3 linked regions of the Homo sapiens genome follow. The protein of the gene in region 2 purifies or fractionates together with the protein of the main gene of each other region. This does not show direct contact. Each region holds a gene or a part of one and is shown on either strand. Other genes may lie near its edges.

Region 1 (3,649 bases), on a different chromosome or scaffold from region 2:
TGATGTAAAGTTCAATGATCATGAACCCATAGTCAATCATATTTATTATTTCTAGTAATTCTGAATGAAAAAAACACAGAAAAGACAGAGCAATATTTTTTATTCATATGTACCACATAATTTCTTATGTAAACTTATTTTATTTACAGAGGCACTATACCTTAATTAACTATAAATCTTTCTGGTTCTGGGGATCTTAATCAAACCAATCATAAAAATTTTCTATCATAAGACACTCAGGCTCAAAATAATGGCTTAGGACTAGTACTAGTTTTGAATTAACTTTACCAGCCAACAGAAACAAGGTTTTTACCTTCCAAAAAGTCTCTGTTATTAAAGTATGTGATCCATTAATGTAACTAGAGAATTGTTCAGTAATGGTATTAATAATACACCAACAACAGAATATTTATGAACACATATTGTCAATATTACCTCGGGCCCATCCAATAGCTATCATGACTATCCAGCCATTTTTGTAATAGCTATTAGCATGTGTGACTCCACCTACTATTTTCCAAGTTCTGGTCACTTCCTTCATTCCCGAAGCCAGTAGTTGAACAGGTAGATATGAATAGCCCTGGGAAACTAGGTCATGCGGGCAAAAAAATGTAATATACCTGAAAATGAAATGTAAACATTTTAATATATTAATGGAATCAGAAGAACAGAAATTAAAATCTAACCTAACAGCAACAACAATTTGGCAAAACACAACAAATGGAATTTTCCATATAAACATTTAACTTGATTTCAATAAAAGCACAACTTGGGTAGGGAGGCAATTTTTTAAATCACATGAAACATATGTCATCTGCCAAAAAGTCATGATCAGAGAAGAATGTAAACTGTGGACTTCTGAATACTTTATAGATATATGAAATATTTAGTGAGCTCTTAATTTGTGCCTATATTGTTCTAGAAGCTAAGTGCTGAATCCAGTAACAAAACAAATGTATAATCATTTCCAGGGGTAGGAACTCCTACACAGTGTCTTTGTCCTCTGGGAAAATGAATTAGAGAAAGGGTCCTTTGGTAAAAGCAAGGGCTACATTTCAATCTCAAATAACATATTCACCTGTGCCCCACTGTGCAGGACATAAACTACAATCTATACAAAGGTACATGACGGCTCACAAGGAGGCAGATTTGTATTAAGGAAAAACACATTTCTATACAGCTGAAAGAATATGAAGCTGTTCTTTAATTTAGTTCACTAAGCTTAAGTTTTAACCAAATTAAACTGTGATTAAAAATAATTCATCCCATCTATGGTAAATTATTTTTTTAAACTTCATTTGTTCTAAGCATCTATTCGAATACTAGCAGTAAGATCTATTGGAAAACATACTGCTTTTTTCTCTCCATTCTCCAAATACTCTGGCTGACAATTTTGTGCTTAAAGTAGAACATATCTTCTTTCTAACGGGGTAAATAAAAGACATGGCATGAAAGAATATCATATCTCTTTTAAAAGAAGCTATTAATCTTATTGCAATTCACGATTTATAAAGTCAGAATTCTTCAATGTTCATGAAATATGAAATGTTTGCCAAAATACTGCTTCAGCGACTAAATAAAAAGATACAATAGTCTGTTTAGCCTAAAGCACCCTTTCTTCTTCATCTCCACTTACCAATTCCTTCCTACTCTTCAAGGTGCCACTCAAATATTACCATAGTCATTGACTTTGGGATTCTTATTTTATTTTAACATCTCAGCTCAGACTACATTCTGATGGCTCTGTAAAACTAAACCAATTGGTTCCTATGCCTAAAAATAGCTCTTTATACATTATTCTTTATAATATAAAATAAAGGCTATAATGCTCATAATGAACTACAATAGTTCTTAGATGACAGAAATCATTCATCTTGTTACCCTCTAACCTAAAACTCAGCATGATGAAAAGTAGCCCTGAATTAAATCATTTATTAGCAGTCAATCTGGATTCAAAATCCAAAATACAGCAAATCAAAGCATTAGTTGATAATTAAAGAGTTTGAGAAAAAAGAATAAACTATCTGAGAGTAGTAAAAAGATTTCTGAAGACCATTTGTATGGCTTTAAAATTGTACATGTTCTATAAGATTTTTAAAAACAACTAGTATGATTTAAAATTTTTACACATTCATAGAAAATTTGAAAGTCTGTATAGTTCTCTCTTTGAATATAGAACTAATTTCTAAGAAGTTGGTTAGGTAATGGGGGAAAAGTATACACACTTAATTTTTAAATGTATTTTTATATCTATTATAGATTACATTAAGAAAGGGGGATTTGTTTTCACCTTAGCAGTAATGAGCACCCAAAAGTAAAATATTCAGAAAAACAACCAAAAGAATGTTATAAATGACCCATTTTCATTCCTTACACTAAGCCTAACTTTAACGTGAGTTAAAAACCTATACTATTACAATAGCAATCTTGGACTTCGGTATTCAACTATGTGACATTATAGTATAAGACATTAAAAAATTTGCAATTATTGCAACTCTTCTATTTAATCAGATCTTTCTAAAGCACACCTACAATAAGTTAACATTTTAAACAAAAAAACTGTTTTCATTTGAGAGTTAAGTAGCCACAGGGCAAAAGAACAATTGTTTATTGTGCTCAGTAGACTTACAAGTAAACATATCAGACCAATGGCACACTCAACAACCATTCCTGCTCTATAACAAATTAGCCTTTAAAATTCTTTTAATAAATCCCTCAACCAACACTTATTAGGTAATAACCTTGTAACCCTTCTGTAAACATAATTTCACCTTTAACTAAAATTATCATATCCAAGGTAACTTTAACTTGTAAAGTGCCTAAAGAAAACATATCACAAAATGAGAGAGGAAGTGGAATGAGAAAACAACTGACTTCTCATACATTTAACTATAGGTTAAGTTAATGGAGAGAAAAAATAACGAAAGAATAAACGTCTCAAACGGGATACAAACAAGACCCTAGGCCACAAACAAATGAAATCTCAACCAGTTTAAGAAAAAGTGAGAGTAGAATTTAGGTATATACAAAAAGTTAGGCAGAGAGAAGCTTCCCAGGCTTAGTCATTGAGAACTCTGTTTTCACTCTACTATCAATTCCACTCCTCTATCGAAGACAGTATCACTTAACTAAGACAAAACACAATGATAAACTAAATACAGTTCATGTTAGTCCAGTATGACAGCTTTGTTCTTGCTCTTATCACTCCAACAAATTGAAAATTTTTTGTACATGCTTTGAAAAATACAGACAGAATGACAACTATAAAATGATACCTTTTGTTGTATTTTTCCTCATCTAAATGTAGTCTCGGTTACACAAATGTGCCATATATAAGTAATTGATACTTGGAATTTTAAGAAAAATATATAGGAAACAAAAATAAACATACTAAAAAATTATAAAATATTTATTTCCCCCGGGAACAGCTTTTCAAAACAAATAAAACCTATGAAAGTGTACACAATACTATGACATACCAAGTTATTGTTTCTCTTTGCCAGTAGATGGTGCTAATTTCCAGATGTATACACTATGAGCTACTGTACTAAAGATTACCTTGCTTGCTTGTTTAAAAACATTTCTAACATCATTTTATCTCTCAAATTAAAATCAAATGGGCAGGGCACGGTGGCTCATGCCTGTAATC
Region 2 (3,649 bases):
TGGCTGACGCCACCCCAGTGCTCTTTAGAAGGTGTGCTGAGGGTGATTTATTCATCACTGCCCTTCTGCTCTTACCTGTCCAGTGGGATCCTCACCTGCCAGGGTGCCGGTGGCTGCTGAGACCCCAAAGAAACCTCCAGGGACCAAAAGCAGGGGCCCCACATCCACACAGAACTCACCTGGATCACTGGGAGTGAGGCCACTGTTCAAGGACATCTGAGGGACATGGAGAGAGTGAGCAGTGGGGGGGTGTCCCTACCTCTGACTCCCTGGCTCCCCTGGCCGTGGGATGGCAGGTGGCCCTAGGGCTTGGTATCAGAATGGCATGGAGGTGACCCGCACTCCTGGTCTCATGTGAGCCCTTACATGTATGTGCTCTGGGTGAGTGTTAGGATTCTGTGTAGGGATGGAGGATCCCCTGTGGATGTTGGCCCGTGTGTGCCAGGGACCTCACGTGGTGTCACAGGCACTGGTGTGTTGGGGCCGTGGGCACGCACACATAGCAGCTCTGTAACTCAGAGCCCTGTCAGAAGCAGGAAGGGTGACTCACGCGCAGCCTCTGCCCCCAGTAGGTGATCCGTGCTCTGAAGGGGTGTGGCCGGTTCCGGAAGTCCCAATGACAGGAGCCCAGCCCTTGGCTAGCTCCATCCCTGTGGGCAGTTTGTTCATTTGTTTGTTTTTGAGAAAGAGTCGCTGCCCAGGCTGGAGTGCAGTGGTGCAGTTGTGGCTCATTGCAACTTCTGCCTGCTGGGCTCAAGTGATCCTCCCACCTCAGCCTCCCAAGTAGCTGAGACTACAGGCATGCACCACCATGCCCGGCTAATTTTTGTATTTTTAGCAGAGATGGGGTTTCACATTGTTGGTCAGGCTGGTCTCAAACTCCTGACCTCAAGTGATCCACCTGTCTTGGCTGCCAAAGTGCTGGGATTACAGGTGTGAGCCACCATGCCTGACTCTTGTGGGCAGTTGGAATCCAGCCAGGATATACAGGACTCAAGGCCTGGACAGTGAGGGCAGTCCCAGAAGCCACTCTGCCCAGATTTGCTGTGCCACCTCCCTTTCCGCTGGGCGAGCTGGCATGGGACATGTACCTTGTCTAGCTTGAGTCTCCCTTGTTGTACCCTGCTCCCTTGGCAGAAGAGAGAGGAGCAGGGGAAGCAAGCCCTGCCTGACGGAGTGTTGGGACTTGGATTTACAGAAGGGGCCAGGGGCCTCCCTGTGGCCCTTCCTTAAGGGGACAAAGGCCTGGACCAACAATACAGTTTCTGCCCTCCATTCCCCCGACCCACCTATCACCCTCGTCCTATCACCCTTACGTCCCTCCTTCTTCTCTCTCTCTTTTTTTTTTTTTTTCTGAGACGGAGTCTTGCTCTGTTGCCCTGGCTGGAGTGCAGTGGCGCGATCTCGGCTCACTGCAACCTTTGCCTCCTGGGTTCAAGCGGTTCTCCTGCCTCAGCCTCCCGAGTAGCTGGGATTACAGGTGCTCGCCACCACACCCGGCTAATTTTTTTAATTTTTAGTAGAGACAGGGTTTCACCATGTTGGCCAGGCTGGTCTCAAACTCCTGACCTCAGGTGATTAGCCCGCCTCAGCCTCCCAAAATGCTGGGATTACAGGCGTGAGCCACTGTGCCTGGCCTCTCCCTCCTCCTTCTTTTAAACTCCAAGTCCTCTGTGCCTCTGGCTTCCTTTTCCTCTCCCAGCTGCCAGGGCTCAGAATGCAGCTGACTCAGGACGGATGACCTGGACATGTCCCGGCAGCCAAGGACAATGTGACCAGGCTGCCTCCCTGACAGGTCGGCTCGGCAGGCTCTGGGGAGTCAGGAGAAGAGTGTTAAACGCTGAGTGTCTCTGGACACCTCAGGCTACTCACAGCAGAGCGTCTGACAGTGCCGCCTTCCGCCAAGAGGGAGGCAGCACAGGGCAGGGGAGAAGCCAGCACCACAGCAGCCACCTGGGTTTGTGCCCCGAGCTATGTGACCTTGGGCAAGCCATCTCATCTCTCCAAACCCCAGTGTTCCCATCTCTAAAACGAGGATGGTAATTGGAACGACCTCATAACAATGTTATGAGGGTTAACTAAGACAGTAAATGAGAAGGGCTTGGTGCTGTGCCTGGCATACAATCAGCTCACTCCATAAATGCAGGCAATTACTCTAATTGTTATGAGCCGAGAGAAGGTTGCTGAGAGACACTGACAAACCGGCCCAGCTACTGAGGAGGCAGTAGGGCCGGGGAGGGACAGAAGCCAAATCATCAGGGGAAAGGGAAGGGACAGCTATGCAGGGAAGGGCGAGGACCCTCCAGGGGTAAGTCTGGGCTCAAAGTTCAGCACTGCGCACGGCACATCCCTTCCCCTCTCTGGGCTCAATGTCCTGACCTGTAAATGGGACGAATAACCCCCCACTTATGGAGGGTGTTGGAGATGGGATGAGATCATGGGAGCAAAGATACTCATCACAGGCCCCAGCCTGTGTCATTTCACCTGGGGCTGCTGGGTCGAAGGAATCAAGCCCCAGGGGGGCGGACGTCGGCTAAGTGAGAGAGTCCAGCAAGTATGGCGGCCCGGCAGGGTGGGCCCCCTGCTGGAGGAGGCTGGGGCAGGGGCTCGGATGGGGGGGATGGGCCCCTCCCAGTGCAAAAATGGAGGTGAGTGGTCAGTCCAGACAGGCCCTTACCCAGGCTGCTCAGAGGGGATGTGCCCGTCGCTGGCCAGCACACGGATGGCAGGACTGTCCTGCAGGGAGGTGAGAAGCAGCCTGAGCCGCGGACATGGCGGGAGGGGGAGGGTGTGAGCGGGCAGGCGGGCTGGCAGGCAGGAGACCACTACGCACCTGAGTATCCTCTGCCGGAGAGTCAAAGAAGATCCCGATGCCGTCCCACGAAGCCAGCCCCCCAAGGACAGAGCCTACATGGCCCCTGCCCCGGGTGTACCACACGGCCTGCAGGTCCCCAGCCCCTCAGCTCAGGGAACCGTGTGGGATACTGGGACCCCGGGGCTCATCACCCGCCTCCCTGACCCACCCCGCTCTGTCAGCTCTGGGAGAGGACACTCACCATGCCCTGGGCTCCCCGGCGCCCCAGTCCCGTCACCCTCATCTGCACCTCTACTTCCCAGGCAGAGAAGGGGACAGAGGCCCTGCTCCACACGGCGCCACTCCGGTTCCTCATGGATGGCGTCAGCCGCACTTCCTCCAGGCCCAGGATGGCGTCTGTGGACAAGGGCAGCTCAAGCCCCAGGCTCCACTACACCCCATCTCCCCCTTCACTCTCTCACTTGGCCCGGGCTGGGCTCCCGGAAGAGAAGGCGACAATGCCAAGGCCTACCATTAAATAAGCGGCCAGCCAGGGAAGCAGGAGTCAGAGCCCAGCACAGCTGGAGGGGCCTTTGCTGGGGAGGGCAATGAATGCCAGCACCATCCACGTCGTCAGTGAAGCCTCACCGCAGTGTGTGCTGTCTGTTTTTATAAGACCCCATCTAACAGATGAGGAAGGTGAGGCTCATAAAAGTTAAGGAACTAAGTGGATTGGATGGAATTCAGCTCCATATGACTCCAAAGCACAAGCTTTTTCCACCACGAGAGAGATTTGTGTCTAACCCTTCCCATTTCTCAGATGACGAAACTGAGGCCTTGTGACAAAAAAGGAAG
Region 3 (3,649 bases), about 16 Mb from region 2:
AGACCCAGGCCCAGGAGTCACCTGAAAGCCATTGAGGTCTGTGAAGAAGATACCCTGGCTGTCGATGTCTGTATGGATGTGCAGGGCCAGCTCCTTGTTGACGTAGTCCCGGATGTCCACCAGGGATGATATGTCCAGAGACAGCCCCTCCACCCCTGGGTACAGGAACAAAGTGGGGGCATGGACAGGTGTGAGGCTGAAGCACAGCTAAGAGGCTGGGCTGGGGGATCAGAGCCGAGCTGGGGAGAGGCTCTGTCCAACCTCCCAAGAAATCCCCAGGGCATTTCTGGATGACTTTTTCTCCAAGAGAATGGAGCATCCCTGTCTCAAATGATACGGAACAGAGGTATGAACAGAGAAGCAGCAGAAGGAAGAATACGCCACAGTTGTGGAGCCCACACCTCCTTCCAGACCCTTCCTCATATGCAGGGCTCACCTGGCAGATTGTAAAGCCGGACCGCCTGGTGAATGTGCTCATAGTACGCAACCACCTCTGAGAAGAAAGGGCCTTCAGTGACACGCAGCACGGGGGGCTCCTTGGGGACGTAGGGCTAGAGAAAGAGCAGATTGCTGTTGAAACTACAGCACAGAGGGCAAAGCAGGAAGGTGCCAGCCCAGGGCTGGGCAAGAGAGCACCTATTCCCAGACACCCCTGGGCTGAACAGGAAAGACAAGGCCCCTGGCAGGCAGCAATAAACCTGTGGGAAGGCCTGTGCCCCCTCCTGCCCTCCCTGCCAGGTTGTTCAAGGCATCTTTAGGATACCTTGGCCTCGCCATCGGGCAGGAAGAGGTAGGCTCCACTCTTGTCTTTGGACGTACGGGTGCCATAGACAAGGACCTGCATGTCCACCTGCTGCTCGTGCTCCTCATCCACCCTTCGGATGCTCTGCCAAAAAACACAGCCCTGACCCCTGGCCCCACACCAGCATGTCAGGCCTGCCTCCTGGGAGGACACGGAATAGCTTCCCCAAGGAGCCGTGCCCTGCTTCCCCATGCTGTCAGGCTGGAGCTGAGATGGCCCAGGCCCCGGTCCACTGTGGGTCAGGTGGCAGAATGCTCACAGGGCCGGGAGGCCGCTCTGCACAGTGCCACCACCACACACGCCCTACTCTGGCCCCTGGCCCTTCCCCACCACCCTGGCCTTTTACCTTGAGGAGCCCAGTAAGGCCTGAGAACCAGACCTGCATGTAGCGGTTGCTGAGGGCGAAGTCGCTGGTGCCAGAGTCAATGACACGGAGAGGAAACGCTTCGTGCCTGCTGACGGACAGCTGCCGGCCGTGCAGGTAGATGCGCACAGAGGAGGGCAGCGTGCGGTGCCCATCCAGGCCCAGCTGTAGCTGCAGCACGCCCAGGCCCAGGGCTGGCAGGCGGACAGGCACAGACACCTGTGGGCACAGGAGGGGTGAGGAAGTGGGGGCACGGCTTTCGCCACAGGGGTGCTGAGGCATCCGCTTACTAACAGAGGGCTTGAGCAAGCCCCTGCACCCGCTGGGCCTCTGCCCCTCCTCCAAAGTGGAGGTGATCTGATTTGCCCTTTCTTCCTCATCAGACTTTATGATTCTCAAGTGATATTTGAAAAAGTATGAAGCGGTAACAACACATTAAGCTTTCGATAAACATTGAATGACTGAATGATGGGGCATTATAACTGCTATTTTTACCATTACTATTACCATACCAACCTTCCCCTTCTTTTCAAGGACACGCTCAAATCCCAAGAGTGCCTGTCTTCTGGACAACCCCCTCCCCAGGACACTTGTCCTCAGCCTGGAGAGTAGCAGGGCCACAAGCAGGAGGGTGGGAGGCTGGCGTCGCCGGGCGGGGAGGGGCCCACGACGGGCAGAGGGCCAGGCCCACCTGACAAGCCCACACCTCACCTGGTAGACGTCAGGGACCGCCTCGGTGGCAGAGCTCCAGTGTGCGCTGATCTGCACGGCCAGGGGCTGACCCTCCTCCGAAAGGACACGCACGCGGGGAGAGTTGACCAGCAGGGACACCATGCTGAATCGCTCCTGTTCCAGTGGGTTGAATAGGACCACAAACCTGTGCGTAGAAGGTGGGCTGACCCAGGAGGCTGCTGCTTCCGACCAGGGCAAGCGCCCTGCACTGGTTCAGCACATGCTGGGGCAGAGGGGCCTGAGAGCCAGGGAATGGCTCTGCCTCTCTGCACATGGCGTAGTCCAGGTTACCTGGGCGAGGAATCCAGCTGGATCACCGTGCGCTCTGGGAGGGCGTCGTGACTTAAGCGAGTGTCATCCTGGAATTCAGTGAGCCGGAAGGGAAGAACCATCATGGGCTCAGCCTCCTCCCACCCCACCTGTCCCAGGTGTGGACCAGCGGCTGCACTGGGCACAGAACTCATCCGGATGGGGAAGGAAAAAGAGAAGCGGCACCCCCATCCAGCAGCTCTTGGGATGGGACCTGCACACACCAGAGGGTCCCCATGCAGACCCAGGAGGGGCTCACCACTTGGAGGAAGGGCGCCTCAGGGTCAAAGTGGTAGGTCTCCTTGTCCCCCAGCACCAGATAGTGGGCTGCATGAATGATGACCTGCTTCAGGTTGACAAGGGAGCGCAGAAGCCTGTGGGTGGCGCAGGAGAGGGAAGGAGAGAAGATGACCATAGGGAAGCTGTCTGCCTTGTCAGCAGGACAAGCCCTAGGCCGGCCTACCCCCTGACCACCCAATGTCCTTTCTTTGGGACAGTGAGCAGGGGAGCTTACAAGGGAAAAGAGAAGGCTCCCACCTGACCCCATAGTCCACCACCACAGCCTCCTTGGCCGTGCCAGTGATGGCATCGTGATGCTGGAAGAGCCCCAATGTGCGCCGAGCTTCCGTCAGGAGGGTGAAATCAGACAGTGGGTACCGGCCAGCCAGACCAGAGCGGCGAGCGTGAGCTGCAGCCAGGCTGTACAGAACCTCTGCCCCCCTGCCCAGAGAGAGAAGTTAGCTGCCAGCCTGCACCACTAGCCAGGGCCCACCCACACTCTGCCAGTGCAGCCTCCTTCCTTCCCACCCCTCCTCTACCTGCCCTGGCCTCTGGGCCTATCTATTCCCTTCTGAGCCAATCCAGCCCCTCCTTAAACCCCAAAGGCTGACTCTCCCCCTCCAGCCTGGAAGCGGGGACAGGGTCTCACCGCAGGTGGGCTTCCAGGACTCGGTCTAAGCTCTTGTAGAAGGGCCGGGAAGTGTAATAGCCTGTCCAGTAATGATCCTCCCGGTCCGCATAGGAGAAGAAATCCCCGCTCAGCACAGGAAACCCTGGAGGCCGGGCCCCTGGCTCCACCCCTGTCCTCTTGTACAGGGCATCAAAATAGTCAGAAAGAGTGCCAAACTGGGCCTGTGGGAACCCCAAAAACCCACTCCCATCAGTTCTAGAGCCTCCTGCAAATTGTGGCCACAGTGCTGCAGTTGGGGGTGAGGCAGGGGCTCTGGCCTCAGAAGCAGGAACTGTACATCCTGCCATTCTAGACTTAACAGAAGTAGGGGAGCCTGGGAATTAATTCTGACATAAAAGGGGCACCTTCGGCTGGGCGCGGTGGCTCACGCCTGTAATCCCAGCACTTTGGGAGGCCGAGGCGAGTGGATCACGAAGTCAGGAGATCGAGACCACCCTGGCTAACACAGTGAAACCCCATCTCTACTAAAACT

What was found.
Region 1: the proteins of LMAN1L (region 2) and TMEM38B purify together in Homo sapiens (affinity purification with mass spectrometry; one large-scale study listed by BioGRID and IntAct). This does not show direct contact.
Region 3: the proteins of LMAN1L (region 2) and MAN2A2 purify together in Homo sapiens (affinity purification with mass spectrometry; one large-scale study listed by BioGRID and IntAct). This does not show direct contact.

Annotation. Positions count from the first base shown.
Region 1 is NC_000009.12:105,718,508-105,722,156, reverse strand, and holds part of TMEM38B (trimeric intracellular cation channel type B), read right to left. Parts: intron 621-3,649; coding exon 436-620; intron 1-435. UniProt on the Homo sapiens protein: Intracellular monovalent cation channel required for maintenance of rapid intracellular calcium release. Acts as a potassium counter-ion channel that functions in synchronization with calcium release from intracellular stores.
Region 2 is NC_000015.10:74,815,719-74,819,367, reverse strand, and holds part of LMAN1L (protein ERGIC-53-like precursor), read right to left. Parts: intron 3,212-3,649; coding exon 3,057-3,211; intron 2,942-3,056; coding exon 2,834-2,941; intron 2,737-2,833; coding exon 2,678-2,736; intron 651-2,677; coding exon 551-650; intron 217-550; coding exon 96-216; intron 1-95.
Region 3 is NC_000015.10:90,909,779-90,913,427, reverse strand, and holds part of MAN2A2 (alpha-mannosidase 2x), read right to left. Parts: intron 3,339-3,649; coding exon 3,136-3,338; intron 2,928-3,135; coding exon 2,745-2,927; intron 2,582-2,744; coding exon 2,467-2,581; intron 2,258-2,466; coding exon 2,190-2,257; intron 2,044-2,189; coding exon 1,878-2,043; intron 1,386-1,877; coding exon 1,149-1,385; intron 912-1,148; coding exon of another isoform or gene 887-911; coding exon 764-886; intron 552-763; coding exon 437-551; intron 156-436; coding exon 22-155; intron 1-21.